2 linked regions of the Homo sapiens genome follow. The protein of the gene in region 2 interacts with the protein of the main gene of each other region in a pairwise test. Each region holds a gene or a part of one and is shown on either strand. Other genes may lie near its edges.

Region 1 (3,752 bases), about 95 Mb from region 2:
CAGGGAATGGAATAACTCTATGTGTGATTTGCAAGCCAGAAACCATGGAGCCATCCTAAATAACTCCTGGCCCTAAATCTGCTCAAACCCATATCCAATTGATCACCAAGGCTGTTTAGTTCTCACACCTAAATGTATGTTGTATTCATCCATTTGCACTTTACTATTCCCACTGCAGCTGTCCTCATTCAGAAAGTCTTACCAGCTGTTTTATTTAAATACAAGCCAATTAAATGATTTTATTTTACATTTTCTAACCTGTTCAAAGAAGATTATTACAGAGCCAAATATACAGGGTTTTATGGATTAAACGAGACGATATATGCTAATCCCAGGGCCTGGCATATAATTGTGGCACACAATGCCAGTGGCCTAGTCACTACCCATTTACCCTTCCTCACTTACCACAAGAAATCCAATTTTGTGGGAAGCACCCAGCAACCTAATGAAAAATACTCATTTCTACAGACATCTTTGCATTTCTGTAATTAAGATAGAAGCTTTTTTTGAAGGAAAACTAATATCCCATCCCTCAGAGCAATAGAGATGAAAAGAAAGCACCATTCATTCTTTACTACAGTAATAATGCTTATCACACTATAGCTTTTTGCTAGCAATACTTAATATGGTCTGAAGCCATTAGATATCTCAATACCAGTAGGAAACTCTGTTAAACCCCATAATATCCTTTTAAAGTAACATCGACTCTATTTTGCAGACAAAACCACAGGTGCTTTTATATGCTTACATAATATTGTCTTTAGTTAGCATGGATTCATTCCTTAGGTAACAAAAAAATACAATCATCACCTGTTCTAGAAGTGCAATATACCTTCTTTAAAAAAAGTAAATGGGTTCTTAAAAATTGACCTCATGAAAATCTCTTACCTAATTGCCCATGAGTCTTTCTTTCTAGCTCTTTACTCTCAAAATTTCTCTTAGATACCCAAGCTCCTTCTTTACCTTAACTCTCAGTTTCTATGTCTTGCACATTTTATTACCATATCATCTTTCCTATCTATCCCCTCCTTCCATTCTTATTTCTCTGGTCTGGGCAGAGCCACCTTCTGCTTGAAATTCCTCATGAGTCTCCTGCCTCTTCTCTCTAATCAAGTCCCACCACTCCCAAAGCAACTTACCTAACAATCAATTTGCTAGGTCAACAACCAGCACTGACTCTCTCAATTAAACGAAAACAACTTAGTCTGTTTGTCAAGGCACTCCAGGATATGGCCTCCTCCTGCCTTTCCATCCCCCTCTTTTAACAACTGAGGACAAGCATCCCATATCTCAGGCAAGAGGGCACTTGCTCATGCTTTGCCCTCATGCCTACCTGGGTACACATACAGGAGATATGATTACTTCCATTCCAGCTATCTTTCTACCTAACAGCCCTCAAATCCCCTCAAATCCCTTTCTACTTCTCCCTCAAATCCCATTCTGGCAATGAGTTTCTTAGTTTGTTTGTGTGTGAGTGTGTGTTTTATTTTTGTTTTAGTAGACTTTATTTTTAGAGTAGTTTTAGGTTCATGGAAAACTTTAACTGAGTGTACAGAGATTTCTTATATACCTCCTGCCCCTACACATATATAGTCCCTCCCCATTATCAACATCCCCCACCATAAAAAAAAAATTGTTACAAATGATGAACCTACACTGACATCTCATTATCAACCAGAGCCCACAGTTTACATTAGGATTCACTGTTGGTGTACATTCTATGGTTTGGGCAAATACATAGAGACATGTATATACACCAGTAGTTTCACTGCCCTAAAAATCACATGTGCTTTTCCTATTCATCCTTCTTTCACCTCATTTGTTAGTTTTTTTTTTTACAACCCTCAGAGCAGCATATATTCTCAACATGTTTCCTATTTTTGATTCTGTTACTATTTGTATGTGTTTCTTCCATCATTACTGATTCAAGTTATTTAAAGTTCAAAACTGTATCTTGTCTTCTATATATTTTCTGCTATAAGATAGATAGCATCTAAGATAGCAAATGTTAAGAATATTTATTAATTGGATTTTTAATGAAAACATACACTTTAATGGGGGATATTTAAAGAAAACCTTTTATAATAAGCCAAAGAGCCATTAACAAAGTAAATAATAATTTCTTATTTGTCTTGCATATAGATCTGGATTTTACTTATTAAGGGTTTTCATTTTTACAACAGAATATGTTAAAATAAATAAAATAGGAAACAAAGAGGTTAGAAATATGCTCTTAGGTTAGATATCTAAAAAACAAAAGAGTTGTGTATTTGAGATGTTTTTACATATCATATATCTACCTACTTCTATTCATCCTGCCCCAGAGAAAAAGTATTTGTAAAAGAACTTGCTTGGACTTTGAAGGCAGACCAGAGTTAAAATCCTAGCTCCACTAACTGGATGATTTGGAGCAAGATATTTAGCTGCCATAAACTTTCATTTTTTTCTACTACTCTTAGAGTTACTCTGTGTGAGGACTACATGCAATAGTGTATGCAAAGTGTAGCATATAGAACCTGTATGAAGAGAAGCCACGACACAAAAATGATAGCTTCGGAATTCTATCTTACACTGGAATCTCTGTGGTATCCTGAATAAGGTGCCAGTTCTCCACAAAGCCTAACGTCAACAATGATAGGACTCTTTACTTATTTCTCCTTCCTTATAATAAAACCCCATCAACTGAAGGGGATGGAGAAAGAAACTGTTACGTAGAAACTTCCTTTCTCTGAAATACCAGCAAAGCAGAGAGGACACTCACTGGAAAACTAATGATCTTTATAATTACAGCAAAATCATAATCTAGGTAACTATTTTACCTTTTTCACTGGAAATATATAGAATAGGCTAAATAAAATATTATCACTAATAAGTATAATATTAACTACTAATAAAATAATTTTCATAGGCCACTTATTTTTTATGTAGAGTGTATCTTCTCCCTATAGGTTTCTAGAAGAGATAAAGTGGCGTTGTAAAGATTAGTCCATGATACTAAATCAAGAAGAATTTCAAATTCAGTCATACTTTTTTTTCTCTACCCACATGCAACCCTTTAAGGCTTGTGGTAAGGAGAACTCCTCCTTGTTCCTAACAAGAACTTCCCACTCTTCTTAAGGTTTCCCAGCCCCAGTTGCTTACGTTATCTTCTCTACTTGAAACAGCCTGATGTCAGACATTTCTAACCTAAAGCTTTAATGAGATTTAAATAATCGTCATACTTTACTACTACTAAAGGTGCTTGTATTTACAATATTTTCTCTAAATATTGAATGAAAAATTCTTTTCTCCCCTCTCTGTGATGAAATAAATATTTGTCATTGAGCAGAATTGAATAAAAATATTTATGGTTAATTTCCTGACACGGTACCAGATTTACAGTCGCTCCTATTTTATCTACAGTTGAAGTCAAATAATGTCATAAATCTGTCCCCTCAACTCACACTTAAGATTCACTTCTAAAAGAAAGAAATAGAATTCCCAAAAGATAAATGCTTTTGATAACTTCTCATGAAATATAGCACCTCTTTGGCTGATATACAGCCATAGTGTGCTGCTTCTGTGATCTGTTACTGGTTTCAAAATTAGTGGTATTCTGGGAGACTAATTAACATCATTAGCCACAATATAAAAGTTTGGACCATTGCATTTAGAAGAATGGCCTCTTGATATCAATTATTTTATAAATATGAAACATGAATTGAGCATGTTTATAACAACTTATCAACCTGCATAAATAAACAAATAAATAA
Region 2 (3,752 bases):
AATGTCTTTGGAAACCAAATGGGAAGGACCAAGAAACAAATGATCACAACTATCAAAAGGATTTAATTTTAAAGAAGAAATAATCTTCAAACTTAAGCCCCTCAAAATATCTGGGCAACTATCAAGTGAATATTCACCAAACTTAGATCAGTTCGTAAAGAGAAAGCCTACAAAGTATGTGTAGAGTTAATGTGAAATTAGTTTTAGCCCATTAAAATGCATTAGATTGAAATAAATTAACATACTCTCAAGCATTACAAATGAGCAGAAATCATTACATTGGGTGCTATTTCTGATTCAGAAGCAATCAGTGAAGGGCTGAAGATTAGTAGTTGGCTTGGTAAGATGTCACATTGGAACCTGGGTCATAATTTTAGGCCAGAAACATTCATGCATATACCAGAATATTAGGTATCAGAAGAAATTCTTTATATTTATTAGAGACCAACTTGTGCTTTTGCCTGCATCTGAGCTGTTGGTGGAGACATGCAATGGGTAAAAGCATGGTTTACAGTACCAACTCTTGAAAAGTACCAAAGCTATGAGTTGTGCCTTAAAAACTACATTTGAAATAAAACATTAAAACATAACTTCCTGGACTGGGCGCGGTGGCTCACACCTGTAATCCCAGCACTTTGGGAGGCCGAGGTGGGCAGATCATGAGGTCAAGAGATCGAGACCATCCTGGACAACACGGTGAAACCCTGTCTCTACTAAAAATACAAAAATTAGCTGGGCGTGATGGCATGTGCCTGTAGTTCCAGCTACTAGGGAGGCTGAGGCAGGAGAATCGCTTGAACCCGGGAGGCGGAAGTTGCAGTGAGCCAAGATCGAGCCACTGCACTCCAGCCTGGCGACAGTGCGAGACTCTGTCTCAGAAGAATAAATAAATGAATAAAATAACATAACTTCCTTATCCCATTTTCAAATTGAAAAAAAAAAGCCAAATGTGCTCCTATTCGGGTTTCAATTAAGATATTATGAGATTTGAGTAGGGTAAGAAATAAAATAAAAATTGAAATTAAAATGCCATTTCTTTTTTGCATTGTAATACATTGAACATATTAAATGAGTTGTGAACCTAAATAATACTAATCTTTTTCGTATGTGTGCTTGGGTGTTCTCGGTCTTTCCAGTCTTGGACATCATGTAACTATTCTTTAAAAAATTCTGCTTTGAGCTGAGCTGGCTCCAGGATAGTTACACCTTCATGAATCTGACTGAGCCCACACAATTTGCTAGTAGGATCCAGGAACACTTGAAGGCTGTTAATATTTGGGGAAAAAAAACAGATAATTCTAGAGTGTAGACAAGGGGAAGAATAGTAAAAGGTCAGAGTTTAATGAGTGAATTTCTACTGGATATGTTGTTTGAAGTCAAAGAGTGAGAAAACATTGAACTTATATGTTGCCTTCCCTCTAATAGTTCAAGTTTGCCTGCTCTGTTGCCTCATATAACCCCTTTAGTCAGTAGTCTAAATTTTATTTTAGAAATTTAACTTTCAAGATAAGCAAATGTCTAGTTTAAAAGGGTCCTCTAGTCTAGGTGTAGTGGCTCATGCCTGTAATCCCAGCACTTTGGGAGGGTGAGGCAGGTGGATCACTTGAGGTCAGGAGTTCAAGACCAGCCTGGTCAATATGGTGAAAACCTGTCTCTACTAAAAATACAAAAATGAGCCAGGCATGGTGGCGGGTGCCTGTAGTCCCAGCTACTTGGGAGGCTGAGGCAGGAGAATTGCTTGAACCTGGGAGGCAGAGGTTGCAGTGAGCTGAGATCGTGCCACTGTACTCCAGCCTGAGTGACAGAGTGAGGCTTTGTCTCAAAAATAAATAAAATAAAACAAAATGTTCCTCTAATTTTGATGAGGGTTTTCTTGGACATTTTCTCTTAGGATCCCACTTATTTCTTCCTTCCTTTCTTCCTTCCTCCCTTCCATCATTCATTCATTCATTCATTCATTCATCCAACAAATATTTGAGAGATTAATATGAGTTAGTATTAGACATACATAAATGAATACTGCACCATGTTCTCTTTTCCCTTGAACAGTTTATGTTCTATCTCTGCTTGCCTCTAAAGGTCTCCCAGTTTGTATCTCACTCCCAGCAATGTTTTATGCTGAATTAATCTCTTCTGAGCGGGGATCTGTGAGTGGTGGTGATCAAGTTTCTCTAGTCTCAGGAAATATAGGGTGGGTCATCTATGCATAAAAGATATAGAAAGAGTAAAATAGAAAATAAGGTTAAGAATTAATTAGATAGCCAAATTGGAACAATACTCCAATTATCAGAAAATATTTTAGTGTGTTTTCTTCTTTAGAGTAGAGAACCTAGGAACAAGAGAACCTGCAAGAGAGGCTTGGAACTTTTGAGAACAAGCCCTCCTCATCTGCTTCAGTATCGAGATGTTAAAATGGCTTAGTCCTCTGATGGGCTTCCTGTTAGATTTAGTGAGCGCCACATGGCGTTAATAAAAAACAGAATTGCCATAAAGATAGAACATGTGTGTTCCTGGAATAGTATAGCAGGCAATAAGTAAGTCAGCAATGCTTCTGCAGTTTATGCAGGGTGACTGCTCAGCAGTAATTGCTTCAGTTCAAGCATGAGCAGAATGTGTTAGCTGCAGCCCTGGCTTCATAGTTGTAAGCAATTTCTGAGGGTGGAAGAAGAGATGGGAAAGAATTTATGATCTAACCGTTATCTGGGTCTGTGTGTTTATTCAGCTCTGTGCACCTAGAGGAGGCTGGCATTCTACGGGCTGGTCCAGGAGGGCCTGATCAGCAGTGGCCAACAGTATCCAGTGCAACACCAGGTAAAGAGCTGGGGTCTCTCCATTCTTTCTTGGTTTCTGGAAAGTGATCAGATGACCTACTTTTGTAAGATCAGGAATGTTGATGGCTCTTTTTCTTTTATATTTTTGTTATTCCCTTTTTTCCATACATACATGATTTCCTTACATATATGATTATTTTGATTTTATACCTAATGCTCTTCAGGAGTTGAAAAAGGATAACAAGGAAAGTGTGTGTGCACGCATGTGTGCATGTGTGTGTGTGTGTATGAAGTTTTTGGGGTTTGTTTGTTTGTTTAAATCAGGTACCTTTCAAATGCTTAGGTCATCCAAGCCATGCAGAGAAGATCTGGTGGCCTTATGCACAGAGATGACACTGTTAACAAAGATCTTTTGGTTGAAGACTATGGAAACCCACCCAAAGTAGTAAGGAAAGAAAGAGAAAAAGAAGGAAAGAAAGAAAAAGGAAGGAAGGAAGGAAGATGGTTTCTCATGGAAGTGGAAAATTATCGGAACCAAGGCATTGTTTTGAGTTCAAGTCAAAGTCAATCTGCTTCTCTCTGCACATCAACAACATTCTGCAGACTGACTTTTAGTGCCTTGGCATGCATGTTGCCAAACATGACCGCCTCACAATTTCTTAGTTTAGAGGGATAATAGGGACTATTTCCTAATCCAAACTTTCAGGAAAGAGAACCTGCTAAGTTGTGTAAAAAACCTAATGGCTGGGTGAGTATAGGAAAATTGCTTAAACTCACATTTGCTTGGTATCCTTATTCTTGCCCTATCACTAAAGCAGGGTCATGTAATAGAAATATGGCTTTGGAGGCCCATCGCTGTGGCAGTTTTCAGAAAGGGAAGATTAAGTGTTGGTAGAGACCACAAATTGTGTCTACTCTAATCCTCTATTAATAGAACATCATGATGATAATAGTAGTTACTAATTATTAAGCCATAATATG

What was found. Proteins that work in one complex are often made in the same cells at the same time.
Region 1: the proteins of PCDHA2 (region 2) and HCN1 interact in binary tests that used the Homo sapiens proteins (3 or more experiments, as listed by UniProt).

Annotation. Positions count from the first base shown.
Region 1 is NC_000005.10:45,647,756-45,651,507, forward strand, and holds part of HCN1 (potassium/sodium hyperpolarization-activated cyclic nucleotide-gated channel 1), read right to left. Parts: intron 1-3,752. UniProt on the Homo sapiens protein: Hyperpolarization-activated ion channel that are permeable to sodium and potassium ions. Displays lower selectivity for K(+) over Na(+) ions.
Region 2 is NC_000005.10:140,979,753-140,983,504, forward strand, and holds part of PCDHA2 (protocadherin alpha-2 isoform 1 precursor), read left to right. Parts: intron 1-2,722; coding exon 2,723-2,811; intron 2,812-3,752. Other genes in the region: PCDHA1 (protocadherin alpha-1 isoform 1 precursor), read left to right, coding at 2,723-2,811; PCDHA3 (protocadherin alpha-3 isoform 1 precursor), read left to right, coding at 2,723-2,811; PCDHA4 (protocadherin alpha-4 isoform 1 precursor), read left to right, coding at 2,723-2,811; PCDHA5 (protocadherin alpha-5 isoform 1 precursor), read left to right, coding at 2,723-2,811; PCDHA6 (protocadherin alpha-6 isoform 1 precursor), read left to right, coding at 2,723-2,811; PCDHA7 (protocadherin alpha-7 isoform 1 precursor), read left to right, coding at 2,723-2,811; PCDHA8 (protocadherin alpha-8 isoform 1 precursor), read left to right, coding at 2,723-2,811; PCDHA9 (protocadherin alpha-9 isoform 1 precursor), read left to right, coding at 2,723-2,811; PCDHA10 (protocadherin alpha-10 isoform 1 precursor), read left to right, coding at 2,723-2,811; PCDHA11 (protocadherin alpha-11 isoform 1 precursor), read left to right, coding at 2,723-2,811; and 4 more. UniProt on the Homo sapiens protein: Potential calcium-dependent cell-adhesion protein. May be involved in the establishment and maintenance of specific neuronal connections in the brain.